7 linked regions of the Homo sapiens genome follow. The protein of the gene in region 4 interacts with the protein of the main gene of each other region in a biochemical or structural test. Each region holds a gene or a part of one and is shown on either strand. Other genes may lie near its edges. The genes, in order: FOXG1, HIPK2, BMPR1A, SMAD1, CDK7, TAPT1 and GSK3B.

Region 1 (4,627 bases), on a different chromosome or scaffold from region 4:
CTGGGGCTACATCCTCCGTAAAATGTGGTATGTTTCGTGCCCATGTGGGATGAAACAGCCTTTGATCAATGTGCTCCCCACTAAATTCCAATCCCTGGGAAATGCTGGGCCTTAGCCCTGCCCCTGGCCACGGGATCCTTTTAAAGCCCCCGATTCGCAATTTCCCCATTCACTTCAACCTCCAACCGAACCTTCCCAGTTCCAAAGCCCAAGAAGCTGGGACTGTGAGATCCACGTTCCCAAGGCTCCCCGGTGCTTTCCAGCAGCACTCAGGGTTGGCAAGAGCTGGCTTCAGTATACTGTTATTTCAGGAATGAGGCCCGCACAAAATAAAAGCATTTGAGAAACGGAAAGGAAAAAAAAGGAGTGAAAATAGGAAGGCTTAAAAAAAAAACCGGAAAGAAATAGACGCCCACCCTTATTTTCCCTCCAATGTCAACAAGCAAAACGAAAATATTTCCAGGGTGATCGCTCGCAGCTACCCGCTTCCAATTCGGATTAGAAGCTGAGGCTGGAGCGGCGAGGAGAAAACGACATCGAGTCACCCCGCGCGTGAGCGACGCTCTGGAGCAGGAGAGAAGGAAAAGGAAGAGACACACGTATATAGCATGTGTTACCTGATTTATTTCGAGATTGTTTGGTACTGTTTTCTCTCTGGGCACCTCTCATTTCGGAAGGCCATCAGAGGCGCCCACTACTGAGCGGCCCCGGCCGCCGCAGCAGCACCCGGAGCCCCAGTCCCGGTTTCCCCGCGGTGCCGGAGCCCGGAGCTCGCCGCCGCCCAGGCCTCAGGAATCGAGTAAGTAACCCCTGTTTGGCCCCGCGCTCCTCTGCCCACTTCCTCCTCCTCATCTCATCGCTCCCAAAGCTCTCCCACACCCTCCTCCCCCGAAGTAAAGGACACCCCCGCACACACGCCAGCGGTGGGCCTTATCTCCCCCCTTATCCAAAGCTGCGCTAGACTATTACCTACAAAGGGCACAATTTTCCTGCTGGCTCAGAAATGCCAGACACTGGCCTGCAAGGCCGACTCGGAAAAGTAGTGCCTCGCCTCTACCTCCTCCATTTCCTGCCCTCTCGCATCCTCTCCCTGCACTCCCACTCTTCCCACTACCACCACCACCCCCGCTTTCAAAAATAAAATTGGATACAAACTTTAATCACTAAGGACAAATATTGACGCTTAAACGAAAATGACCCAGTACAATGAGGAGGAAGCCGGAAATGTGAGCTATTGGCCCTAGGAGGGGAATTTCGGTGGAGCGGAGCCGGCGGGGTGGAGGGGGTGGCGGGGGCGCAGGGAAGGGCTGCGGCACCGCGTGCTCCCGCCGGCGTATCCCTACGCGGCTCCGCGCGGCCTCGGGGTCCGAGGCCCGCGGAGAGGGGGAGGCGAGCGCCCGAGGGGGCGGCAGCCGGCGGGCGGGGCGGGGGTGGGTGGGCCCGGCCCCTCCGATTGGTCGACGGCGAGAGAGACGCTCCCGCACGCCGCCAGCTCTGATTGGCCCAGCGGTAGGAAAGGTTAAACCAAAAATTTTTTTACAGCCCTAGTGTGCGCCTGTAGCTCGGAAAATTAATTGTGGCTATAGCCGCCTCGATCGCTGTCTCCCCAGCCTCGCCGCGGCCGCTCCGGGACGCGCCCGCCCGCCGCCCGGCTCTCCCCCCCTTTGGGCTGCTGCTGCTGCTGCTGTGACTGCTGCTGCGAGAGGAGGAGGAGGAGGAGGAAGCAGCGGGGGGGGGAGCGGGGGGTGGGGGGGGAGACCAAGAAGTACAGTTGGGAGCGAGGGAGCTTCACCCCCGGGGCGGTGGTTGTTTCTTTTTTCTTTCTTTCTTTTTTCTTTTCCTTTTTTTTTTTTTTTCTAATTCCTGAGGGGTGGTTGCTGCTTTTGCTACATGACTTGCCAGCGCCCGAGCCTGCGGTCCAACTGCGCTGCTGCCGGAGCGCTCAGTGCCGCCGCTGCCGCCCGCGCCCCCCGCGCCCCGTTCGGCACCCACCGGTCGCCGCCGCCCGCCGCGCCGCTGTCCCGCTCCCGCGCCGCCGCCGCCGTTTCCCCCCGACGACTGGGTGATGCTGGACATGGGAGATAGGAAAGAGGTGAAAATGATCCCCAAGTCCTCGTTCAGCATCAACAGCCTGGTGCCCGAGGCGGTCCAGAACGACAACCACCACGCGAGCCACGGCCACCACAACAGCCACCACCCCCAGCACCACCACCACCACCACCACCATCACCACCACCCGCCGCCGCCCGCCCCGCAACCGCCGCCGCCGCCGCAGCAGCAGCAGCCGCCGCCGCCGCCGCCCCCGGCACCGCAGCCCCCCCAGACGCGGGGCGCCCCGGCCGCCGACGACGACAAGGGCCCCCAGCAGCTGCTGCTCCCGCCGCCGCCACCGCCACCACCGGCCGCCGCCCTGGACGGGGCTAAAGCGGACGGGCTGGGCGGCAAGGGCGAGCCGGGCGGCGGGCCGGGGGAGCTGGCGCCCGTCGGGCCGGACGAGAAGGAGAAGGGCGCCGGCGCCGGGGGGGAGGAGAAGAAGGGGGCGGGCGAGGGCGGCAAGGACGGGGAGGGGGGCAAGGAGGGCGAGAAGAAGAACGGCAAGTACGAGAAGCCGCCGTTCAGCTACAACGCGCTCATCATGATGGCCATCCGGCAGAGCCCCGAGAAGCGGCTCACGCTCAACGGCATCTACGAGTTCATCATGAAGAACTTCCCTTACTACCGCGAGAACAAGCAGGGCTGGCAGAACTCCATCCGCCACAATCTGTCCCTCAACAAGTGCTTCGTGAAGGTGCCGCGCCACTACGACGACCCGGGCAAGGGCAACTACTGGATGCTGGACCCGTCGAGCGACGACGTGTTCATCGGCGGCACCACGGGCAAGCTGCGGCGCCGCTCCACCACCTCGCGGGCCAAGCTGGCCTTCAAGCGCGGTGCGCGCCTCACCTCCACCGGCCTCACCTTCATGGACCGCGCCGGCTCCCTCTACTGGCCCATGTCGCCCTTCCTGTCCCTGCACCACCCCCGCGCCAGCAGCACTTTGAGTTACAACGGCACCACGTCGGCCTACCCCAGCCACCCCATGCCCTACAGCTCCGTGTTGACTCAGAACTCGCTGGGCAACAACCACTCCTTCTCCACCGCCAACGGCCTGAGCGTGGACCGGCTGGTCAACGGGGAGATCCCGTACGCCACGCACCACCTCACGGCCGCCGCGCTAGCCGCCTCGGTGCCCTGCGGCCTGTCGGTGCCCTGCTCTGGGACCTACTCCCTCAACCCCTGCTCCGTCAACCTGCTCGCGGGCCAGACCAGTTACTTTTTCCCCCACGTCCCGCACCCGTCAATGACTTCGCAGAGCAGCACGTCCATGAGCGCCAGGGCCGCGTCCTCCTCCACGTCGCCGCAGGCCCCCTCGACCCTGCCCTGTGAGTCTTTAAGACCCTCTTTGCCAAGTTTTACGACGGGACTGTCTGGGGGACTGTCTGATTATTTCACACATCAAAATCAGGGGTCTTCTTCCAACCCTTTAATACATTAACATCCCTGGGACCAGACTGTAAGTGAACGTTTTACACACATTTGCATTGTAAATGATAATTAAAAAAATAAGTCCAGGTATTTTTTATTAAGCCCCCCCCTCCCATTTCTGTACGTTTGTTCAGTCTCTAGGGTTGTTTATTATTCTAACAAGGTGTGGAGTGTCAGCGAGGTGCAATGTGGGGAGAATACATTGTAGAATATAAGGTTTGGAAGTCAAATTATAGTAGAATGTGTATCTAAATAGTGACTGCTTTGCCATTTCATTCAAACCTGACAAGTCTATCTCTAAGAGCCGCCAGATTTCCATGTGTGCAGTATTATAAGTTATCATGGAACTATATGGTGGACGCAGACCTTGAGAACAACCTAAATTATGGGGAGAATTTTAAAATGTTAAACTGTAATTTGTATTTAAAAAGCATTCGTAGTAAAGGTGCCCAAGAAATTATTTTGGCCATTTATTGTTTTGTCCTTTTCTTTAAAGAACTGTTTTTTTTTCTTTTGTTTACTTTTAGACCAAAGATTGGGTTCTAGAAAATGCACTTGGTATACTAAGTATTAAAACAAACAAAAAGGAAAGTTGTTTCAGTTGGCAACACTGCCCATTCAATTGAATCAGAAGGGGACAAAATTAACGATTGCCTTCAGTTTGTGTTGTGTATATTTTGATGTATGTGGTCACTAACAGGTCACTTTTATTTTTTCTAAATGTAGTGAAATGTTAATACCTATTGTACTTATAGGTAAACCTTGCAAATATGTAACCTGTGTTGCGCAAATGCCGCATAAATTTGAGTGATTGTTAATGTTGTCTTAAAATTTCTTGATTGTGATACTGTGGTCATATGCCCGTGTTTGTCACTTACAAAAATGTTTACTATGAACACACAGAAATAAAAAATAGGCTAAATTCATATATATCTTGATACTTTTGTCTCTTTTATTAAGTAGAGCTAATTTTTTAAAGACCAATCAACTTATAGGGAATTCAAAGGCTTTTTCAGCCAAACTAAAATTTAAACTGCTCCTTTAATTTGAACTGACTCTAAAAATGAAAATAGTATTTTTCCCTTTGTGAACAAATTTTACA
Region 2 (3,937 bases), on a different chromosome or scaffold from region 4:
ATGAGCCTTCCAGTTCACCTAAGATGCTCAGGCCCCAAAATGAATGCTCCGAATTCTTGCTTCTGAACGTGAGGTGTAGATCTGTCTTTGGACATCTTGCAATATGTTCTTGCTGCCTCTCCCTTCATATGAAACATTTTACCTGATTCGTCCTTTGAACACCCCTACTTTGGGCACCTTCCTCAAATGTGGACTGCTTTAGAGTTGGGGCTCTGTGGAACAATAGCACCGCATTTTGGCGAATGACTGGATTCCCTGGCCAAAGCTCTTTCCCATACTCAGTTATTTCATCTTTCCTCTCCTAGGGCTTCCTTACGCTTTTCAGTGTCACCAGGCAGTAATCCTAAAGTCCAGCAAGGTTTCCAAAAAATATAAATCACAGAAATATAGCTGTCCGGCACGGTGGCTCACGCCTATAATCCCAGCACTTTGGGAGGCCAAGGGTGGGGCAGATCACCTGAGATCAGGAGTTCGAGACCAGCCTGGCCAACATGGCAAAACCCCATCTCTACTAAAAAATACAAAAAATAGCCAGGTTTGGTGGCACACACCTGTAATCCCAGCTACTCGGAAGGCTGAGGCTGGAGGATCACTTGAACCTGGGAGGCAGAGGTTGCAGTGAGTCGAGATTGCACCACTGCACTCCAACCTGAGCGACAGAGCAAGACTCCACCTCAAAATAAAAAAAGGAATTTAGCTGTCCTCCATAGAAAGTCAAGGTGATAAAAATATTTCAAGCACATTCCAGAAACTTAATGAAGAAAAATAACTGAGTACAAGATACAACACATGAAGTGCTCAAATCAACAAAGGATGGCGGAAAGGAGGTTACTCATTACCTTTCTCTCTTAAAATGCGCTCCCTTTTTCCTGGGCAAAGTCTTCCTCAGTCTGGTTCTTAGACTAAGAATCAGTACCATGGCTGGGCACAGTGGCTCACGCCTGTAATCCCAACACTTTGGGAGGCTGAGGCAGGCAAATCACTTGAGGTCAGGAGTTCACGACCAGCCTGGCTAACATGGTCAAACTCTGTCTCTACCAAAAATACAAAAATTAGCAGCTGGGCGCGGTGGCTCATGCCTATAATCCCAGCAGTTTGGGAGGCCAAGGCAGGTGGATCACAAGGTCAGGAATTCGAGACCAGCCTGGCCAATATGGTGAAACCCCGTCTCTACTAAAAATACAAAAATTAGCTGGGTGTGGCAGTGGGCGCCTGTAGTCCCAGCTACTCGGGAGGCTGAGGCAGGAGAATCACTTGAACCCGGGAGGCGGAGGCTGCAGTGAGCTGAGATCACGCCACCGTACTCCAGCCTGGGCGACAGAGCGAGACTCTGTCTCAAAAAAAAAATTAGCTGGGCGTGGTGGTGCATGCCTGTAATCCCAGCTACTTGGGAGGTTGAGGCACGAGAATCACTTAAACCTGGGAGGCAGAGGTTGCAGTGAGCCAAGATCACACCACTGCGCTCCAGCCTGGGAGACAGAGCAAGACTCCATCTCAAAAAAAAAAATCAGTATTGTTTCTGTGCACATCTCACCCCAGCAGGACTGGTTGCCCAAGGAGGCAGGACAGCCCCCAGCCCCAGCGCCAGGCTCTTGTTCATTCCCTGGTCTGCCCTGCCCTTCTTGGTGGGGGACCATCTGCCTGTCTTTCCACCTGGAAGATGTTTTCTTCTCCATTAACTCTACTGTTCTTTAGCGTTTAAGGAACAGAAGCAATGCTTGTTGTAACTATGGTTTCTAACTATACAACACAAACCACACAGTCTTCAGGCTGCTTTGTCGTAGCCTTCACTTACTAAACCCCTCTTTTTCTGCTTCCGTTGTCATTGAAGTTAGAGAAAGGTATCTGGAATTTTCTGCCTCCCACACTTTCCTAGGCCATTATGCAGTTTGCTCCTAAAGAAGCCCAGTGTTGGCCCAGCGCGGTGGCTCACGCCTGTAATCCCAGCACTTTGGGAGGCCAAGGGCAGGTGGATCACCTGAGGTCAGGAGTTTGAGACCAGCCTGGCCAACATGGTGAAACCCTGTCTCTACTAAAAATACAAAAAAGTTAGCCAGGCGTGGTGCCGGGTGCCTGTAATCCCAGCTACTTGGGAGGCTGAGGCAGGAGAATCACTTGAACCTGAGAGGCAGAGGTTGCAGTGAGCCGAGATCGCACCATTGCACTCCAGCCTGGGCAACAAGAGTGAAACTCCATCTCAAAAAAAAAAAAAAAAAAAAAAAAAGGAAGCCCAGTATCTTCTCACTAGTCTGGGTCTGTTTGTTGCTTTTGCCATTACAAAAGTGCTTGCATTTAATGAATGGCTATGACTGGTGCATCTGGGTGCATTTGATTGGAAATTTCATTTAGGTGTGTATTAATACTGCACTGTGTGTTAGGCAGCCCTCTCCTGGAGGAGAGCTGAGGCACAGGGACATGGGGGGCTAGTAAAGCATCTCTTCTGCTTTTATCAAGGGGTGATGGTCCTGTCTGCAGAACTCCCCAAGCTGGGGTGGGGAGATGGCCCCCACTCGGCAGCAGAGCTCCCGCCCTCTGGGGCTCTTGCCCCTGCTGGGCTGGACACTCATGCCCTGTCCTGCCCTGTCCTGTTCCATCAGCCTTCTTGGACTTGGGCTGTCCCTGACTGTCAGCGTCTTCATCTGGTTTATCCTCTGGCCTCGCCACCTCATCTGCGTGATCTGTGATGCCTCCTCCTTATTCACGCTCTCAGCCTTCTCCCTGCCACCCCCGTCCCTGGTGGTACACAGTCACCGTCCTTAGCACAGGGCAGGAGCTCAGAAAATACTTGGATGAGTTAAAACCACTGGGCTCTGAAGAGGCTCCTGGCTCCCCTGGCTCTCTGGCTGGGTAACATGGAAGCCATCCAGCTCAGGGTTTAACCCACCTCTCTCAGAGCCCCTGGCTACTCAGAGCGTGGTCCCCCAAGCAGCAGCACTGGCACCCCCTGGGAGCTTGTCAGAAATGCAGGTGCTCGGGCCCCCCAGAGCTGCTGGCCAGAGTCTGCACTGAACAAGATGCAGGAATTACATTTGAGAACTGTTGATGGAGCCACCTGCTGACCATGAGGTCACCTCTGGAGGGTTGCAGTGTTTTTTCCACTCTTCAGCCCCCTTGGCAATAACATGGAGGCAGTTTTGTGCTTGGCCATGTTTGGCTCACAGGGCCATTCCCCGGATGATTTAGTCTCATCCTGCCTAGAGGCAGGTAACTGGACCAGGTGACTCTGAGGGTTATTTTAGCTTCTAGTAGTTTATTAGGTCCCACCACAGACACTGTCTCCTCTGATACTCATAGTCACCCATGGTGGGGACCAAGCAGGGATCCTGTCTTAGTCTATTTTGTGTTGCTGTAACAGAGTACCTGAGACTGGGTAATTTATAATCAATAGAAGTTTATTTGGCTCACGATTCTGAAGACTGGAAGTCCAAGAACAGGATGCCAGCATCTGGCAAGGACCTTTGTGCTGCATCTTCCTAGCACAGGAGGCAGAAGGACAAAAGAGCATGAGGGTGAGGGGGCCAGACTTGTTTTCATCAAAAAAGCCAATCTCTCAATAGCTAACCCACTCCCGAGATAATATTAATGCACTGATGAACTCATACACTCATGAGGGCTCTGCCCTCAGGACCTAACATCCCTTACTGGCCCCACCCTAAACACTTGCACTGGGGACTAAGTTTCTAACACAAGAACTTTGGGGAACACATTCAAATTATAGCAGATCTCTCCTACCCATTTTCCAGATGCTGAAAGTAACACCTCCCAGAGGAACGGCACTGGGCCTGGCCTTAGGCCACCAGCCCACCTTGCCTCTCCTGATTCTTTTCCGCTTTCCCTTGCTTCATTCCCTCATGCAGCCCCGACCACCCTCCCAGCCGAGGGAGTGAGCCAGAGCCCCACTGCATCCAGAGTCAAGGCAAAGTCCTAGTGGGTCCGG
Region 3 (3,937 bases), on a different chromosome or scaffold from region 4:
TTATTATCCATAAGTAATTTTATTGGAACACACTCATGTTCATTTTTTTACATGTTGTCTGGCTGATTTTGCATTGTGTCGGCAGAATTGAATAGTTGTGACAGAGACCTTGGGGCCCACAAAACCAATACCTGTTTTCTATATCTCTGCTGTCTTGTGTGATAGCTACTAGCCAAATGTGGCTTTTGAGCACTTGAGTTGTGACTAGTGTGGGTGAGAAACTGATTTTTAATTTTACTTCATTTTAATTCGTCTACATTTTAAGTCACATGTGGCTAGTGGCTACCATATGGGACAGCACAGTTGTAGACATGCCACCTTTTCCCTAGTTCTTGCTTCCTTGTACTTGACTTTCCTTCTGCTGATGTCTTCCTGGTTTCTATTTAATTAATGATGCAGACTGTTGTTGCAGAATTCATTAGGCTACCATTGCTGATTATCTCATATGTATAGTGCATCAGTAGCCCATTGGTCTCACCAACCGTTTGCCATCTGAGTTCTGTTGTAGACATTCTATCTTAAGGTTGCGGCAGAGGGCATTTATTTGCTGTAGAAAAAGGAAGCCAATAAATTATTGGGAAAATATGAAAAATTACTTAGCCAGGAATAAAAATCTAGTAAAATCATTGATGCCAAAAATTGCTGTTGATGACAAGGACCTGTAAATGTGCCTGTGTATGGTCATGTGTCTCTTGTAACTGTTTGTCTCTTTGTATGTATATGTTTTCATTTTTTCCTGAGATGTTATACTTAAACATGTAAGCTATTAAATATTTTGTGTGTGTTTGTTTTGAAATATAACCTATACCCCCAGTCCACCCCAGGGCTCGTAGTTTATTCTTTGTAAATACACGGGACTTGTGGGTGGCGAGAGATTGACATGTTCAGAACTGACAGAAGGCCATGTGCCAAGTAAAGTGATGATGGTGAGGCCTGCAGGACCCAGATCCTGTTGGGCCCTGGGAGCACACAGTGGAGGTTGGATTTTATTCTGAGTGCATTGTGGAGCCATTGATTGGTTTTATATAGGAGTGACAGATTTGTGTTTATAAAATGTCTCTGGCTGCTCTGTGGAAAATGGATTGCAGGGACCAAGAGCAGAAGCAGAGGGAACAGTTGGAGACTTCTTACCTTAGTAGAGGCATGATGTGATGGGCCTTGGTGACAACAGCGGAGTTGGAGAAAAATGAAAACAATTGACATACATTTTGGAGGTTGAGCCAAAAGACTTTGGTAAGACCAGGTTTGAGGCAAATCAAGAGTTCATTTAAGACAAGTCAGTCAGGAGATGTCTAAGCAGGTCATGGCTAGAGGGGGTACATCCAGGAACCATCAACAGAGTGGGCGCTGTCCCCTAGGGAGAGCACAGAGAGGCTCTTTCCTGTTACTTTTCTTTGTATTCAATATCTGCTTGGTGAAATCTTGCAAGTTTTTAAGATGTAGCTTAGATTTCATTACTTTTGACACCTAAGATCAGTTTGAGTTTGACACCTAGGATGAGCCTTTTCCTTTGTTTACATGTAAACACCTCCGTATTTTGTCACTTTTTTTTTTTTTTTTTTTTGAGATGGATTTTCGCTCTTGTCGCCCAGGCTGAAGTGCAATGGCTTGATCTCTGTTCACTGCAACCTCCACCTCCCAGGTCAAGTGATTGTCCTGCCTCAGCCACCTGAATACTGGGATTACAGGCGCCTTGCCACCACGCCCAGCTAATTTTTTAATATTTTTAGTAGAGACGGGGTTTCACCATGTTGACCAGGCTGGTCTTGAACTCCTGACCTCAGGTGATGTGCCCACTTTGGCCTCCCAAAGTGCTGGGATTACAGGCGTGAGCCACCGCGCCTGGCCTTTGTATTTTGTCACTTTTCACATTGTATTTATTTGCTTTTGTGCTTATTCCCCCTCTGCTTTCCACCAAGTTTCTCAAGGCCACATATGTGGTTTTGATGCCACATCTTTGCGTTTCTAGCATTTAATACCTTGCCTGCACATAATAGACCCCTACTAAGTATTCTGTTGAATATTTGGCAATAACATAAGCTCCAGATACAACTACTGTAATTGAGTTTTTTGTCTCATGAATTCAAATAGTATTCTAGGAAGTTTCATATAACTTTGAGTTTTTTCATGTATCAGTGATCTTTTAGTGTTCTGATCTTTGTTATTAGTAACATCTTCATTTGTATACTATTTTACATGTAGTTAAGCACTTTAGTAAATATTCATTTGATCTACCTATAACCTCTTGATTTGAATTAGGCAGGAATTATTATCCCCATTTTCTATAGATAGCTGAGGTTCAGAGAGTAACTTATCTGTGCCCGTAACTGCGACTTGAACCCTTCACTTCTTGCTGTTATCTCAAGTGATATTTCTGCCACACTAAACTGCTTTTTCTGTGTCACTAGATTTTTGAAAAATCAGTTGCTGTGATATATTATATACTGTTTGTTTTCCAGAGCTGAATTGATACGTGTCTTCTGTTAATGTAATAGGATTTTAAAGCTGGTCAGGTTCCCTCACCTGTCCTCTAGTCCTGTAGCCTTATAGAGTAAATGAAGCCTGGAAAGGTGACATGGCTTGCCCAAGACCATCCAGCTAGGTAAAGCGGGGTAGGCCCATGGCAAAACAGAATCCCAGTCTCCTCATTTCCTGCTCAGTGGATTTCTTCCCTTCCTGTACCTCCTGCTTCCCCCACCCCATCTTTTACAGTTGATGTTTCTAACATAAAGGAGGTCTTTCCGCTTTGTAGCAATCAGATCCAACGGAAGCCTTGACATTATATTACGGAATTTATTTCTGAAAGGAGAGTGGTGTGGGGGGCGCGGGGATGAGTAATATATGTATGTACACAAACTTCCAGCTTTTTTTTTTTTTTTTTAAGTGTTTTCTCTCCTGGCCGGGCACGGTGGCTCATGCCTGTAATCCCAGCACTTTGGGAGACTGAGGCAAGTGGATCACTTGAGGTCAGGAGTTTGAGACCAGCCTGGCCAACATGGTGAAACCCTGTCTCTACCAACAAAATACAAAAAAATTAGCTAGGCGTTGTGTGGGGTGCCTGTAATCCCAGCTACTCGGGAGTCTGAGGCAGGAGAATTGCTTGAACCTGGGAGGCGGAGGTTGCAGTGAGTCGAGATTGCACCAGTGCACTCCAGCTTGGGTGACAGAGTGAGACTCTATCTCAAATAAAAATGTTCTCTATACTCATTCAGTAGCAAATTCTTTTACTAAATATTCGGTATAAGAAAGTGAAGGTTATTGGCCAGGCATAGTGGCTCACGGCTATATTCCCAGCACTTCGGGAGGCTGAGGCGGGAGGATCGCTTGAGCCCAGGAGTTCAAGACCAACCTGAGCAGTATAGGGAGACCTTGTCCCTACAAAGAATTTAAAAATTAGCCGGGCATGGTGGCATGTGCCCTTGGTCCCAGCTACTCCAGAGGCTGAGGTGGGAGGATCACTTGAGCCTGGGAGGTTGAGGCTGCAGTGAGCTCTGATCACATCACTGTACTCCAGCCTGGGCAATAGCGTGAGACCATGTCTCAAAAAAAAAAAAAAAAAAAGTGAAAATTATTGAAACTGAAGGCATGTAATCATCAAAACACTATTTAGCAGCACTTTTTCTGTTACCTGTGTGTGCATATGTGATATTTTTTGTCTTTTCAGTAGTTTATCTCATCAGTATGGTAAATGTAAAATCAAGTCTGTGTTGTGTCTTGAACCACTTATTTAACATTCATAATGAAATACATATACACTTGTCTGTTTGGTTCCACCTTTCATTCCCTTGAGAGTAACCCACAAAGAATGGCCTAGCTGAGTCAGAGAGAGGAAGTAATTACTAGAACAGTTTTTTTAGTTCCGTTCTGCTTCCAGCCTGAAAGATTTAGTACCAAATATGACAGTATCTGTCACTGCAGGCTGCTAGACTCTAGTGTA
Region 4 (3,937 bases):
TTCTCTTTCCTTGACATAGTAAATAGTAATCATTAATACTTTAAAGTCTGTTTCTGGTAACTCCATTACCTGGGTCACCCGTTAGGTCTGTTTCTATTCTGTTTTGTTTTGATCATTTGGTCCTGTTTCTTGGTATGCTTGATAACTTTTGGTTCATTGCATACACTGTGAATTTAAAATTGTAGTGGCTAAGGTTGATGTTGTCTTCCTCTACAGAGAATTTGTTTTTCTTCTGGCAAGCTGTTAGAGAGCAATACCCATCACCTAGACCAAGGCTAGGATTAAGATGATTCTAGATTGGTTGTAAAGACTGATCCGTTTCATTTTTGCCCTTAGACTGGGGCATATTCCTCCAGGAGCTTCCATTGAAAGCCTAGACTATTTACCAGGGTTTCTCCTCAGCAGGCCCTCAACTCCATTTGTTGCTGTGTTGTTATTTTGGGGTTCCTCAGCGCTATGAGGCTACTAGAAGCTCTGCTTAGTTTTTAGCCTCTTAGTTACCTCTTTCTGCTCGGCTCCTAGACCTTTTGCTGCTCATAGCATAGCTATTGGCAAATCCCTGGAAAGAGTGGTGACGAATATTCAGCTCACTTCATTGCATTTCCCCTCTCTCCAGGATCTTGGCCCCCTCAAGTCCTGAGTGCCTTGGTTCCTCTTTGATGCCTTTAAAAAGCTGGGCTTTTGTTTGTTTGTTTTCTGGCTTGTTTGTTTGGAAGGAGGTTGGTCTGATACGTGCTACTCCAGTTTAGCCAGGGTTTGTACAAAGTTAACCTCCTTAACCTTTTTCACATTTTATGTTTTCATGTGCTAAAGAGTAAACAGTTTAAATGAGGCAACTTGGCTAAAGAATTTGGTACAGTATGTGTCCATGTGCTTTATTCCTTTTATGTCAATAAATAGCAACATTTTTAAAGCAGGAGATGTATTTCCTATCCTATTTGTCCTGTAGCCCATAGACACAGGCTTGTTCACTGAAGAAATACCCTAAAATATTACTACATTTATATAAGAGGAATTTTCTTTTAGCCTAAGAAATATTTGTAGAACAAACCAAAAAAACAGAGATATTAGACTATTTTTTTCTCCCTGTTGCTTTCAGTTTTTGTTGATTGAGGTGTTTTGAAATATATTTTTAGAGGTTATAAATGAATCTAAATCTAAAATATTACAATATCTTTTGAGAACTTGGGCTTTTTAACTTTGTTGCTTTTATCCCAGAGCTTTTGCTAACAGTGGCTTACTTTTTAAACTGCTTCTCAGTTTACTCATCTGTAAAGTGGCAGCAATTGTATTACCTAACTCAAAGGATTGTGAAAAGCATTAAATGCTATATATTAGTCTGCTTTGGTTGCCATAATAAAATATCATAGACTGGGTGGCTTAAATAACAGAAATAGATTTTCTCTTTGTTCTGGAGTCTGGAAAGTCCAAGATCAAGGTTCTGGACAATACAGGCTCTGGTGAGGGCTCTCTTCCTGGCTTGCAGATGATCACCTTCTTGCAGTACCCTCAGTGTGTGTGCATAGAGGCTGGAGGAGGGAGATAGCAATCTTAAGACCACCAGTCCTATCAGGTTAGGGCCCCACCCTGATGACCTTACTTAACTTTAATTACTTTCTTAGAGGCTCCATCTCCAAATATAGTCATACTGAGAGTTAGGGCTTCCGCATATGAATTTTAGGGGTCACAATTCAGTCCACAGCATACTGTATTACATAAAAGCACTTAAAATAGTACCTAGCACATGGTGATTACTTAATAAATGTGGTTGTATGGTAAAGATGATTCTAACCATTCTTTTTTTGTTTTGTAGGTGCTGACTGGGTTACTTTTTTAAACACTAGGAATGGTAATTTCTACTCTTCTGGACTTCAAACTAAGAAGTTAAAGAGACTTCTCTGTAAATAAACAAATCTCTTCTGCTGTCCTTTTGCATTTGGAGACAGCTTTATTTCACCATATCCAAGGAGTATAACTAGTGCTGTCATTATGAATGTGACAAGTTTATTTTCCTTTACAAGTCCAGCTGTGAAGAGACTTCTTGGGTGGAAACAGGGCGATGAAGAAGAAAAATGGGCAGAGAAAGCTGTTGATGCTTTGGTGAAAAAACTGAAGAAAAAGAAAGGTGCCATGGAGGAACTGGAAAAGGCCTTGAGCTGCCCAGGGCAACCGAGTAACTGTGTCACCATTCCCCGCTCTCTGGATGGCAGGCTGCAAGTCTCCCACCGGAAGGGACTGCCTCATGTCATTTACTGCCGTGTGTGGCGCTGGCCCGATCTTCAGAGCCACCATGAACTAAAACCACTGGAATGCTGTGAGTTTCCTTTTGGTTCCAAGCAGAAGGAGGTCTGCATCAATCCCTACCACTATAAGAGAGTAGAAAGCCCTGGTAAGTGAGTTATTTTATGTTGATGTGCTTTGTGTGCCCAGTACCAGATTTGTGTTGTTTAGAACATGAAAATAATCCCTTTGCTTGTTTTTAGTTGTAATTTAAAAATATTTGGGGAAACTGTGTGTGTGTGTGTGTGTGTGTGTGTGTGTGTGTGTGTGTGTCTGTGTGAATGCAAGAGAGAAAGCCCCTGAGTGTTTCATACATTTTAACAGCTTAGTCATCTCTAGTTAACATTATGTCTTGGGAGCAGGCTATGACAATTGTCATTGCAGTACTAATACCTCTAATTTTTAATAAATTGTTTTCTTTCTAAATTTATTTTTTATGTCTCACATGGTTCTCTGCATTTCTCTAGATAAAATTAGCTATGAATTGTATTCTAAGGGAAGAAAATTAGGAAAGAAATGCATTATTGCTGTCTATATGCTTAAGGGAAGTACATCATGAGGGTAGTTGCCAGTGACTTAAACCATTCTGAACTTAAGAACAGCACTTTTTATCATCTCTGGCGGAATTTTGCTGTGGCATATTTCCTATGGTGAATATGAAGGAATTATATCCTTCTATGGAATCATTTGATGCTATTACTTTATAAAATATACCCAGTTTTTACATGTATAGTCTTTTGGGAGGGTATGGTAAAGGATATATTTTAAAATTTATACGGTTTTGCCCTCAAGTTAGAATCTACATTCTAGAGAGTTGGATCATTGGAAAGTGATTAGATATTCAAGCACTTAAATGTCTCATTGTCGATTGGGACCAATTTTGTTGATGGATTGGCTGTTAATAGTTCCTGGGTTACTAAGGCTGTATATTAGAATCACATGGCTCTCCTCCCAGAAATCCTGATCCTGGGATAGCCTGGTAATCTTTGTTTCTAACAAGTACTTCAGGTGTTACTGATGTAGCTATTGGATTGGTGTTTAGGAATTACTAAACTAGATCATGTAATAACATGGTTTTCAAATAAAAGGCATTCTGTATTTTTGTGGAATATTTAAGACATATTTTAAAAAAAGATTTTAAAGACCAGTAGTATAACAAACATCTCTGTATCCCCTACTCATTTTAAGAAATAAAAGATTACGTGTAAACTGGAACCCCTGTTTTTGCTCCTCTGATTCTGCTCCCTTTGGTAACCACTGTTCTGAATCTGACGCTTATCATTCTCATGCATGTTTTTATACTGTTATTACATATGTATGAGTCCATGACAATATGTAATATTTTATATATTTAAAAATGTTACATAATATTGGAGTTTCTTTGTACAACTTATGTTCATCCAACATTACGTTTTTGTGATTTCTAGATTATATACTTTAGGATTACCTTGTTAAGTCCTATGAAAAACACTTTGGGAATTTATTGGAATTTCGTTGATTTCATTTGGGGAAGATTGGCCTACTGTGCTCTTGAGCATAATATTATTTAGTGCACTTTTAAGTTTCTCCATACAGCTCCTGCACTTACTAGATTTATTTCTAGATAACTGGTTTTTATTGTATCCTTTTAAAAGTTACATTTTGTTACAGTTGCTCT
Region 5 (3,937 bases), on a different chromosome or scaffold from region 4:
CCCAGAGTCCCTGCCTCATAGGGAAGTTGTGAGACTAGCCAATTGAATAGATGTAAAGTATCTGGAATAGTGCCTACCATAGAAAATGTATTCATTCATTCAATGATAGCTGCTGTTATTTAGAGGATTTCTTAAGAATCACATTTGGGACTTTTCTTTTGAATTGGAGACTGGAATGAGGTTTTCATTGGTTAATTTCTTAATTCTAACTCCAAATATTTGGGGAAAGAGGTTGGGTATTTTTTTAAGTAAAATTTAATATTTTTATGCTTCAAAATACTAATTCCTTTAGTACTGTCCAAAAAAGGACAAATGTCAAATTTAATCAAATGATTTAAGCTTTATAGGGAATTACCAACAGTTTAAATGCTTTTTAAATTTTTAAAAATTGCCTCAGTTGCTATGATACTGTCAGGTATTAAATAGTGAATCACATTTTAATTTTTTAACTTTGCAGCTCCTTGATGCTTTTGGACATAAATCTAATATTAGCCTTGTCTTTGATTTTATGGAAACTGATCTAGAGGTAAGATTAAGATTCCTGGAGAAATTCCTTTGTCCCAGTTTATCAAACAAGAACCTAAATATTTGTTTTCTACCCAAGAAGATACTGGTAGTAAAAGAAAAAAAGCTTAATTTTGTTGAAATTTGGATGTACTCTGAGGCAAAAGGATCTCTAGTTATTTTCTTCTAATCATTTAGTGATATCCCCAGTGTTACATACAAAGATTTGGATTTCATTGGCATTTCTGCCTTCTAAGTTCCCATAGCTAGTTGACGTCATTTTTGGAGAAATGAGCATTAGACCTATAAGATTTGTTTGCTTTTTTTTTTTTTTGTGATGGAGTCTCAGTCTGTTCACCCAGCCTGGAGTGCAATGGCGTGATCTCGGCTCTCTGCAGCCATCACCTCCTGGGTTCCAGTGATTCTCTCACTTCAGCCTCCCAAGTAGCTGGGATTACAGGTGCCACCACGCCCGGCTAAATTTTATATTTTAAGTAGAGACGGGGTGTCACCATGTTGGCCAGGCTGGTCTTGAACTCCTGACCTCAAGTGATCTGCCTGCCTCAGCCTCCCAAAGTGCTAGGATTACAGGCATGAGTCACCATGCCTAGCAACCTATAAGAATTTAAAATTTATTTCTGGCCAGTGCAGTGACTCACGCCTGTAATCTCAGCACTTTGAGAGGCCAAGGCAAGAGGATTGCTTAAGCCCAGGAGTTCAAGACCAGCCTGGACCCCATAGATCCTGTCTCAGCTTTACAAATTATATTAAAAAATAAAGAAACTTATTTCCATATAATCAGAGTAATGTCATTCTTTTGAAAGCCAAGTTTTTTTGTTTGTTTTTGTTTTTGTTTTGTTTTTTTGAGACAGAGTCTTGCTTTGTTACCCGTGCTGGAGTACAGTGGCGCGATCTCAACTCACTGCAACCTCTGCCTCCCAGGTTCAAGCAATTCTTGTGCCTCAGCCTCCTGAGTAGCTGGGATTACAAGCGCCCATCACCATGCCCAGCTAAAATAGAGATGGGGTTTCACTATGTTGGACGGGATGGTTTCAAACTCTTGACCTCTGGCGATCTACCTGCCTGAGCCTCCCAAAGTGCTGGGATTATAAGCGTGAGCCACCATGCCCGGCCTCTTTCTTTTAGATAAATACCTAGCAGTGGTATTGCTAGATCACAAGATTATTGATTAGTGGTATCGATCACAATATTAGTGATGCTGTTATAGATCACAATACTAATGGTATTGATCCTGGAAGGACCTATCATAATAGGCTATGGACTCACCACTAGGCTATGGATTGCACCATTGCACTCCATCCTGGGTGACAGAGTGAGATTCCCATCTCGAAAAAAGAAAAAAAAAAGAAACAAAAACGTATGCCAGAATTCAGTTGGTACAGATGTTTGGCTTTATTAATAATTATCAAAACTGGAACAATCCAAACATCCCTCATTCTAACTGTACAAACAAACTGAAATACTACTCAGGAATAGAAACACACTATTGATAAATGCAGCAACATAGATGAATCTGAAATGCATTATACTAAGTGAAAGAAGCCAGGCTAAAAAGACTATGTATTGAACCATTTCATTTATATGATATTCTGGAAAAGGCAAAATGAAAGGAACCAGAAACCAGATCAGCGGTTATGGGGGCTTTGGGGTAAAGGAAAGGAGTAAGTACAGAGGGGCCTCAGGGAATTTGGGGAGGTTACGGAACTATGCTTTGATTATAGTGGTGGTTACATGACTGGATGCATTTGTCAAAACTCATGGAACTATACACTAAAAAGGGTATGCTTTACCTTAAATCTGATTTTAAAAAAAGAAAAGGGGAACTTTTAGTTCCTAACTGATAAATCTAGAATAAACTGACATTAGGCACAGCTCATAAATAATGCCATCAAAACTCAGTCTTACGCTTTAACTAAGCTCCATTTTCTTCTCTGTTGCATTCTTCATGTGTACAGTTCTCAATATGGTGTTCCAGATGCTTCTAGGTATATGTTTGTAGAGTTTAATAATACCTGAGGAACGAAAGTGCTTTCTTTTCTTTGATTCTAGCACAAGTACTTGGCCTGGTTGATTGACTTGTCTTGTATCCCTGAACCAATCACTTGGCCAGGAGACTGCAGTGTGATAATGGGGATGCCTGGGTCATGTGCCTACCTCTGGAGGCCTTAGGTTGACTCAGTCCTACCTTAACCATGTGGACTAAGCTGAGAAGAGATGGCTTCCCAAAGGAACACTAACTGCTATTGTCAGAAGATGCAAGCAGAAACAACAGGTGTTTGCTACTTTCATGCGAAAGCAGTAGAGGACAAAGCACTGCTTTCTTTTCAAACCAGAAATGCTCTCCCTACCCATCTAACTCTGGAGATTTTGACAGGGCTTCCTGAGGAAACTTAGATAACCTCTTTTGAGAGTCTCCTGTATTGATACTTACATTTTAAGTCTGTAAATTGTTTTATGTGGTAGAGTTTATTTGAAATAATAAAGGGTACCTGTATATTGTATACTTGCTTTACAGGTTATAATAAAGGATAATAGTCTTGTGCTGACACCATCACACATCAAAGCCTACATGTTGATGACTCTTCAAGGATTAGAATATTTACATCAACATTGGATCCTACATAGGGTAAGGTTTTTAATATTGCTTCTTTATACTAGTCAAGTTTTATATAGCCAATTTGGTACATAGTGGTCTGAATATGTAAATTGTTTAACAATGAATTTATAGCTGACTGTTTTATCCCATCTTTTTGCTATATATTATTCCCTTCACTTGTTCCAGCAGTTGGTGCTGTAAGGACTCCATATTACTTTGTGAAATTTAGAACTGGAAGAGATCCAGTCCCTCATTTTTTTTTTTTTTTTTTTTTGAGATGGAATCTTGCTCTGTCACCCAGGCTGGAGTGCAGTGGCGCGATCTCTTGCTCACTGCAAGCTCCGTCTCCTGGTTTCATGCCATTCTCCTGCCTCAGCCTCCCGAGTAGCTGGGACCACAGGTGCCCGCCACCACGCCCAGCTAATTTTTTGTATTTTTTTAGTAGAGACGGGGTTTCACCGTGTTAGCCAGAATGGTCTCGATCTCCTGGCCTCGTGATCTGCCCATCTTGGCCTCCCAAAGTGCTGGGATTACAGGCGTGAGCCATTGCGCCCGGCCTCCTCATTTTTTAATAGATGAAGAGCTAAGTTGCTAAGTGACCTGACCATGGTTATATTTTTTTTCAAGGTTGGCTGCTGATAATGGACAGAGTATTAAAACATAGGTTTTGACCCAGGCATGGTGGCTCACTTTTGTGTTGCCAGCACTTTGGGAGGCTGAGGCAAGTAGATATCTCGAGCCCAGGAGTTCTAGACCAGCCTGGGCAATATAGTGAAAACTCATCTCTACAAAAAATACAGAAATTAGCTGGGTGCA
Region 6 (3,937 bases), about 130 Mb from region 4:
CCCCAGCCCAGCTGTCCCCAAAGCCAGGCTCCAGGATCTCTGTGGCCTAAAATGAACATTGGGGGTTTTGTTTATTTGTTTGTTTGTTTTTAACCTCTGGTTTGGACTTCCCAGAGATGATGATGCTAAACCATCTGTAGCTGAAGTGACTACAGATGACAGGTGGAATGTAGTAAAGTCTTCTTGGCCCACTCCCTGATGTTCTGTATTGGAGCAAGTGTTAATGTTTCAGGACTGCCAACAGTCATGTTAGGTCTTGATTATATAGAGAGGAGCCGTAATGTAGGAGTTGTGATCTTTCTGCAGTTGGGTGATGGCATTGTTTGTGTGATACGAGCAATGTAATGTACCCTTCCATAAAGTTGAACAAACAGATGATTAGCCTCTAAGTTTTATTATAAATGATGGCTGCTTATACAACATGCTATTTGGTTATCATTTGCTTTATCGGAAAGCATGGATAATGGGCACTTTTTTCAGCACCACTGTATTGGTAAGTTTGTATTTATTAATAATTGGAGAAAAGTCTTTCTCTAATTTAATGGATCTATTTTATCACAGGCCTTTCCACAGAAGAAAACCTGTCTGCCTCCATCACCAAACAACCTATTCATCAAAAGGAAAATATCATACCATTACTTGTGACAAGCAATTCTGATCAGTTTTTGACAACTCCAGATGGTGACGAGAAGGACATAACGCAGGACAATTCTGAATTAAAACACAGATCCTCAAAGAAAGATTTGTTAGAGATAGACAGGTTCACAATTTGTGGAAACCGAATTGACTGAATCTGTGGCTTCATGCGCTGAAGAAGCTGGGTCCTGGGGCAACAAGTGCTGTGTTGCCAGGACAAATAGATGCTAAACATGGCACTTAAATATTTATTTAAAAACTTAAATTATTATTGGCAAGCAAATCTTAGTATCTTTCTTCCAGTAATATGGCCTGGCTGAGGGTCAGACCACAGGACAGGAGCGACCTCCGGCCTTGACTGTCTGGGAAGCTTGATGGATTATAAAACTTCCTCCTGCCTGGCCAAGCAGCAGCATCATTTCCAGGACCCAACAAAGGCAACATCAAAATCTGTTTTGCTTTGTCAGTCTGGGCTTCCAGAATGTTGAATTTGCCTCAAGGCCTCTTCAGTATAAGGAAATACCTGGAAAACTGTGAAACTTTTACCACGACGTAATCTTTCCAGTCTCATACTATTTTCACAAACAGTTTTCAAACGTTACTTCATCTGCCAAAGCATTAAAAAAATTAAACATAAGTCAAGATAAATGTTCTTACCACCAGAATAACCCTTAAAGATGTATCTTAATTAATCAGAATAAAAGGCTACCTTAAATAAGACATGATGAATAGTAGCATTTTGTAGGGTTAAAAAAAAATGCTAAACTAGTTTATTTATTAAAAAAATAATTAATGAAGGCTATGCATTACTGGGAAAAATCCTTCATAATTTTTCAGTTTACTCTTTAAAGCAAAATGTGAGCTGTATGTCATTTAATTGGTGGATAAAACAAATTTCCTTACAAAAGGGCACTTTTTACACCAAGGAAGCAGAGCAGTGTTAACTTTAAGGTATACTTAACTGATTTTGCTTTAAAACTAATTACTTCATAAATTATTACAGCTAAAAGGATTCGATGTTGAACAGGCTGAAAAATTGTCAATGTACAAAATTCAAAACTGTCAACTTTAACTGTAAAGTAAATGCTCCAAGTGTGTTAGACAGCATCATCTTGCTTGGGCTTACCAAATGCATTAGTCTTTGTGTTTGGGTCGACAGCGAGTGTGCCTGTGCTGGGGCAGGGTGTGTGTTCTGTGGGAGGGTGTCTGTGGGGATGTGACTATCAGGGTGGGCCTGTGCTGGGGATGGGGCAGGCCTGGGTCTGGAGAGGATTTTGTGTGAAAGTAAATGGGGTGTTTGAGGCGTATGGGTGGCTGTTGGTGTGGGGAGGCATCTGTGTATGGCTGTTGGGAACAGCAACCAAAAGGTGCTTTTTGGTTTTATTTGAGATGAAGATTGTGTTTCCGCTTAATTACTAGTTTGTGGTCTATATCATAGAAGTTATTTCCCACCCCATTTTATCTTGACAACCGTGTTTGCATTTCTGTAAAACTTCTACAACTTCTGGTGTCAGAACTGTCCAGAAGATGGTACTGTTAACTGTTATTTCCTTTGATGTTTTGATTTTGAAGTTTAGCTCTCATGCAAATGTTTCAGGCGTACATACATAGGCAGAAAGCAATTTTTAGGTGATTTGTCTGTTTCTTGGATGAAATATAAAGCAAGCTTTAATGTTCTGACTTGTTCATTTGAAATACAAAAAAGTAAGTGAATTTTAATGTTTTGCATTAACTAAAGAAATCTGAAGATTAATGTTGAGGAAATTGTATGGACATGCCTTTGTGAAACCAGGAAGTATTTTAAGTTAAAAATGAAAAAGGTTTTAATTGCTTTGTGTGTGTTTTAATGGAGCCCCATTTTAGAATTATTTTTTCCATCTCCCTTTACCAACAAAAGGAACAATGCCACCGTGAATGGAATAGTTTGGGGAAAGCTTTGCCAAACACAACCCTGATTTCAGAGCAGGAACATGGTTTGGATAGATCTTCAGTTCCGCTTGAATTATTCTGTTACTGCGCTGTCATTTTCAGAAGATTTCCATTCCTTTGCAGATGCTGTTGGGAGTTCGGGATTATGTTCATTTCTTCTGTTTTAATGGCATTCAGTACTAATTTTATAAGTGCATCTTGTGTGAATCTCAATAAATTCAGTTTTGTAATCTTTTTTAAAAAGGTCACTGAATTTATTTTAATATTTACTATTGTATTTGGTAGAGTGAATTTCCCACTGTATAATAAGTATTTATTTGTAATTCACAAGTGATAGAGCTATCTTAATTTGAATTATTGCTTTGGTCTTAATGGTGGCAAAATGTTTAATTTTGTCTTTGGAAAAAATAGGCTCGGCCTTGATTATAGACCATTTAATATTTCTCAGCAAATGAAGGTATTTGCATTTTACAAGTGTTTTGAATGTCACACAAAATATTTTTCACATCTGGGAGTCAAGTTCAAGACAGTGCTTTGGTTTTAAAAAAATCTAATGAAGGCACAGGATAGGCCAGACCCTTATTAGGTTTTCCTTTAGAATAAGTGTAAAGACCAAGTGTCACTGATACGCTTGTCCAGATTTTCTTGTGGACTTTGGCCAGTATTTAGAGTTTATATTCATGTTACATAAAGTGAAAGAAACTTGCTATAATTAGGCCATCAAAATATATCCTGCCACTCCTGGTAACTCAGCAGAGGAGGAGATAAATTTACAAAATAATGTAATATCTCTACATTGTTACATGTTTTCAACTATTTTTTATCAACAAAGATTTGTTAATCACTTCCTATGTGTCAGAAACTGTTCTAAGTGGTGGGATCAGCAATGAGCAAGATAAGTCCCTGTTCGTCTGTGGAAGACTGATAGGAACAAGTCGATGAAATAATGTCTGCTGGTCACAGAGTGTCCACTGACCAAATGATCTCTCAGGCTTATTTCAGCTCTAAAATATAGTTCTTTAAAACGTTTGTGTAAGTCTGATTTTTTTCCTATTGGATTAGCTTGAAATAAGATAATTGTATAGCAATTTTACAGTGCTTCTATAAAATAGAAATAAGAAAAGACTTTCTCCCTGAAGACTGCTAGTTGTCCAGCAGAATCCATTCTCCTGTTCCATTGTGTAGAGTTGTAGCTGGGCATGTGCTGCTTGCTGGGGACTGCATTTCTCAGCCCCTCTTGCTGTTACCTGTAGCCAGCTGACTCATTCTCCCAGGGGATGTAAGTTGAAGGGTGTATTCCGCTATTGGGCCAGGACCCTTAAGACCATGGGTGAGTCCCCCTCACCTCCTCTGTCCCCTTCCCACAGGTGGA
Region 7 (3,937 bases), on a different chromosome or scaffold from region 4:
GGGATATTGGTCTAAATTTCTTTTTTTTTGTTGTTGTGTCTCTGCCAGATATCATTTGGTATCAGGATGATGCTAGCCTCATAAAATGAGTTAGGGAGGATTCCCCTTTTTTCTATTGATTGGAACAGTTTCAGAAGGAATGATACCAGCTCCTCTTTGTACCTCTGGTAGAATTCGGCTGTGAATTTGTCTGGTCCTGGACTTTTTTTGGTTGGTAGGCTATTAATTATTGCCTAAATTTCAGAACCTGTTATTGATCTATTCAGAGATTCGACTTCCTGGTTTAGTCTTGGGAGGGTGTATGTGTCCAGGAATTTATCCATTTCTTGTAGATTTTCTAGTTTATTTGCGTAGAGGTGTTTATAGTATTCTCTGATAGTAGTTTGTATTTCTGTGGGATCAGTGGTGATCCCCTTTATCATTTTTTATTGCATCTATTTGATTCTTCTCTCGTTTCTTCTTTATTAGTGTTGCTAATGGTCTATTTTGTTGATCTTTCAAAAAATCAGCTCCTGGATTCATTTATTTTTTTTTTTGAAGGTTTTTTTTCTGTCTCTATCTCTTTCACTTCTGCTCTGATCTTAGTTATTTCTTGTCTTCTGCGAGGTTTTGAATTTGTTTGCTCTTGCTTGTCTAGTTCTTTTAATTGTGATGTTAGGATGTTGATTTAGATCTCTCCTGCTTTCTCTTGTGGGCATTTAGTGCTCTAAGTTTCCCTCTAAACACTGCTTTAAATGTGTTCCAGAGATTCTGGTATGTTGTGTCTTTGTTCTCATTAGTTTCAAATAACTTATTTCTTTCTGTCTTAATTTCGTTATTTACCAAGTAGTCATTCAGGAGCAGGTTGTTCAGTTTCCATGCAGTTGTGTGGTTTTGAATGAGATTCTTAATGCTGAGTTCTAATTTGATTGCACTGTGGTCTGAGAGACAGTTTGTTGTGATTTCTGTTCTTTTACATTTGCTGAGGAGTGCTTTACTTCCAATTATGTGGTCAATTTTAGAATAAGTGGGATGTGGTGCTGAGAAGAATGTATATTCTGTTTATTTGGGGTGCAGAGTTCTGTAGGTGTCTATTAGGTCCGCTTGGTCCAAAGCTGAGTTCAAGTCCTGAGTATCCTTGTTAATTTTCTGTCTCCTTGATCTGTCTAATATTGACAGTGGGGTGTTAAAGTCTCCCATTATTATTGTGTGGGAGTCTCAGTCTCTTTGTAGGTCTCCAAGGACTTGCTTTATGAATCTGGGTGCTCTTGTATTGGGTGCATATATTTTAGGATAGTTAGCTCTTCTTGTTGAATTGATCACTTTACCATTATGTAATGGCCCTCTTTGTCTCTTTTGATCTTCGTTGGTTTAAAGTCTATTTTATCAGAGACCAGGATTTTTTTTTGCTTTCCATTTGCTTGGTAGATCTTTCTCCATCCCTTTATTTTGAGCCTATGTGTGTCTTTGCACGTGAGATGGGTCTCCTGAATACAGCACATTGATGGGTCTTGAGTCTTTATCCAGTTTGCCAGCCTGTGTCTTTTAATTGGGGAATTTAGCCCATTTACATTTAAGGTTAATATTGTTATATGTGAATTTGATCCTGTCATTATGATGCTAGCTGGTTATTTTGCCCATTAATTGATGCAATTTCTTCTTAGCATCGATGGTCTTTATAATTTGGCATGTTTTTGCAATGGCTGCTACCGGTTGTTGCTATCCATGTTTAGTGCTTCCTTCAGGAGCTCTTGTAAGGCAGGCCTGGTGGTGACAAAATCTCTCAGCATTTGCTTGTCCGTAAAGGATTTTATTTCTCCTTCACTTATGAAGCTTAGTTTGGCGGGATATGAAATTCTGGGTTGAAAATTCTTTTCTTTAAGAATGTTGAATATTTTCCCCCTACTCTCTTCTGGCTTGTAGAGTTTCTGCCGAGAGATCTGCTGTTAGTCTGATGGCCTTCCCTTTGTGGGTAACCCAACCTTTCTCTGGCTGCCCTTAACATTTTTTCCTTCATTTAAACCTTGGTGAATCTGACAATTATGTGTCTTGGGGTTGCTCTTCTTGAGGAGTATCTTTGTGGTGGTCTCTGTATTTCCTGAATTTGAATGTTGGCCTGCCTTGCTATGTTGGGGAAGTTCTCCTGGTGAATATCCTTAAGAGTGGTTTCTAACTTGATTCCATTCTCCCCATCACTTTCAGGTACACCATTCAAACGTAGATTTGGTCTTTTCACATAATGCCGTATTTCTTGAAGGCTTTGTTCATTTCTTTTCACTCTTTTTTTTCTAATCTTGTCTTCTCGCTTTATTTCATTAATTTGATCTTCAGTCACTGATATCCTTTCTTCTGCTTGATTGAATCAGCTACTGAAGCTTGTGTATGCTTCACCATGTTCTCATACTCTGGTTTTCAGCTTCATCAGGTCATTTAAGCTCTTCTCTACACTGTTTATTCTAGTTAGCCATTCGTCTAACCTTTTGTCAAGGTTTTTAGCTTCCTTGCAATGGGTTAGAACATACTTCTTTAACTTGGAGAAGTTTGTTATTACTGACCTTCTGAAGCCTACTTCTGTCATCTTGTCAAACTCATTCTGCATCCAGTTTTGTTCCCTTGCTGGCGAGTAGTTGTGTTTCTTTGGAGGAGAAGAGGCGTTATGGTTTTTGGAATTTTCAACCTTTCTGCTGTGGTTTCTCCCCATCTTTGTGGTTTTATCTATCTTTGGTCTTTGATGTTGGTGGCCTACGTATGGGGTTTTGGTGTGGATGTCCTTTGTGTTGATGTTGATGCTGTTCCTTTCTGTTTGTTAGTTTTCCTTCTAACAGTCAGGTACCTTAGCTGCAGGTCTATTGGAGTTTGCTAGAGGTCCACTCCAGACCCTGTTTGCCTGGGTATCACCAGAGGAGGCTGCAGAACAGCAGATATTGCTGCCTGATCCTTCCTCTGGATGCTTCGTCCCAGAGGGGCACCCACCTGTATGAGGTGTCTGTTGGCCATTACTGGGAGATATCTCCCAGTCAGGCTACACAGGGGTCAGGGAACCACTTGGATAACAGTCTGTCCCTTATCGGGAGCTGAAACGCCATGCTGGGAGAACCATTGCTGTCTTCAGAGCTGTCAGGCAGGGACGTTTAAGTCTGCAGAAGCTGTCTGCTGCCTTTTGTTCAGATATGCCCTGCCCCCAGAGGTGGAATCTAGAGAGGCAGTAGGCCTTGCTCAGCTGTGGTGGTCTCTGCCGAGTTTGAGCTTCCCTGCTGCTTTGTTTACACTGTGAGCATAGAACTGCCTACTCAAGCCTCAGCAATGGCAAACGCCCCTCCCCCCACCAAGCTCCCACATCTTAGGTTGATCTCAGACTGCTGTGCTGGCAGCGAACAAGGCTGTGTGGGCGTGGGACCCGCCGAGTCAGGCATGGGAGGGGATCTTCTGGTCTGCCTGTTGCGAAGAGCATTGGGAAAGTGCAGTATTTGGGCAGGAGTGTATCGCTCCTCCAGGTACAGCCACTCATGCCTTCCCTTGGGTAGGAAAGGGAAATCCCCCAACCCTTTGCACTTCCCAGGTGAGGCAATGCCCCACCCTGCTTCGGCTCGCCCTCCATGGGCTGCACCTGCTGTCCAACCAGTCCCAGTGAGATGAACCAGGTACCTAAGTTGGAAATGCAGAAATCACCTGTGTTCTGCAAAGATCTTCCTGGGAGTTGTAGACCAGAACTGTTCCTATTCAGCCATCTTGGAAGCGACCATGAATGCCATCTTACAAATGAAAGTGTTAATTGGTCACAGACATTCACTGGCTTTTGTGTATATTAATACTTCTGTGAATTTAAATGGATATAAATATTGGTTATAATATTCCACTAGTGCATTTGGATATTCATTTATCTAGCAATTTATATTTCACAGAGAAAAATACTCATAAATATTATATTACTTTTCTTTTATTAGGTTAATTGGAATTC

The links.
Region 1: the proteins of SMAD1 (region 4) and FOXG1 form a complex in vitro, tested with the Homo sapiens proteins (one study listed by BioGRID).
Region 2: the proteins of SMAD1 (region 4) and HIPK2 form a complex in vitro, tested with the Homo sapiens proteins (one study listed by BioGRID).
Region 3: of the proteins of SMAD1 (region 4) and BMPR1A, one has a biochemical effect on the other in vitro, tested with the Homo sapiens proteins (one study listed by BioGRID).
Region 5: of the proteins of SMAD1 (region 4) and CDK7, one has a biochemical effect on the other in vitro, tested with the Homo sapiens proteins (one study listed by BioGRID).
Region 6: the proteins of SMAD1 (region 4) and TAPT1 form a complex in vitro, tested with the Homo sapiens proteins (one study listed by BioGRID).
Region 7: of the proteins of SMAD1 (region 4) and GSK3B, one has a biochemical effect on the other in vitro, tested with the Homo sapiens proteins (one study listed by BioGRID).

Annotation. Positions count from the first base shown.
Region 1 is NC_000014.9:28,765,215-28,769,841, forward strand, and holds the start of FOXG1 (forkhead box protein G1), read left to right. Parts: upstream 1-1,572; 5' UTR 1,573-2,065; coding exon 2,066-3,535; 3' UTR 3,536-4,627. UniProt on the Homo sapiens protein: Transcription repression factor which plays an important role in the establishment of the regional subdivision of the developing brain and in the development of the telencephalon.
Region 2 is NC_000007.14:139,575,428-139,579,364, reverse strand, and holds part of HIPK2 (homeodomain-interacting protein kinase 2), read left to right. Parts: intron 1-3,937.
Region 3 is NC_000010.11:86,885,285-86,889,221, forward strand, and holds part of BMPR1A (bone morphogenetic protein receptor type-1A isoform 3 precursor), read left to right. Parts: intron 1-3,937. UniProt on the Homo sapiens protein: On ligand binding, forms a receptor complex consisting of two type II and two type I transmembrane serine/threonine kinases.
Region 4 is NC_000004.12:145,512,625-145,516,561, forward strand, and holds part of SMAD1 (mothers against decapentaplegic homolog 1), read left to right. Parts: exon of another isoform or gene 1-858; intron 859-1,813; 5' UTR 1,814-1,989; coding exon 1,990-2,389; intron 2,390-3,937. UniProt on the Homo sapiens protein: Transcriptional modulator that plays a role in various cellular processes, including embryonic development, cell differentiation, and tissue homeostasis.
Region 5 is NC_000005.10:69,255,003-69,258,939, forward strand, and holds part of CDK7 (cyclin-dependent kinase 7), read left to right. Parts: intron 1-457; coding exon 458-526; intron 527-3,040; coding exon 3,041-3,151; intron 3,152-3,937. UniProt on the Homo sapiens protein: Serine/threonine kinase involved in cell cycle control and in RNA polymerase II-mediated RNA transcription. Cyclin-dependent kinases (CDKs) are activated by the binding to a cyclin and mediate the progression through the cell cycle.
Region 6 is NC_000004.12:16,160,162-16,164,098, reverse strand, and holds the end of TAPT1 (transmembrane anterior posterior transformation protein 1 homolog), read left to right. Parts: intron 1-561; coding exon 562-791; 3' UTR 792-3,594; downstream 3,595-3,937. UniProt on the Homo sapiens protein: Plays a role in primary cilia formation. May act as a downstream effector of HOXC8 possibly by transducing or transmitting extracellular information required for axial skeletal patterning during development. May be involved in cartilage and bone development.
Region 7 is NC_000003.12:120,003,554-120,007,490, reverse strand, and holds part of GSK3B (glycogen synthase kinase-3 beta), read left to right. Parts: intron 1-3,937. UniProt on the Homo sapiens protein: Constitutively active protein kinase that acts as a negative regulator in the hormonal control of glucose homeostasis, Wnt signaling and regulation of transcription factors and microtubules, by phosphorylating and inactivating glycogen synthase (GYS1 or GYS2), EIF2B, CTNNB1/beta-catenin, APC, AXIN1, DPYSL2/CRMP2, JUN, NFATC1/NFATC, MAPT/TAU and MACF1.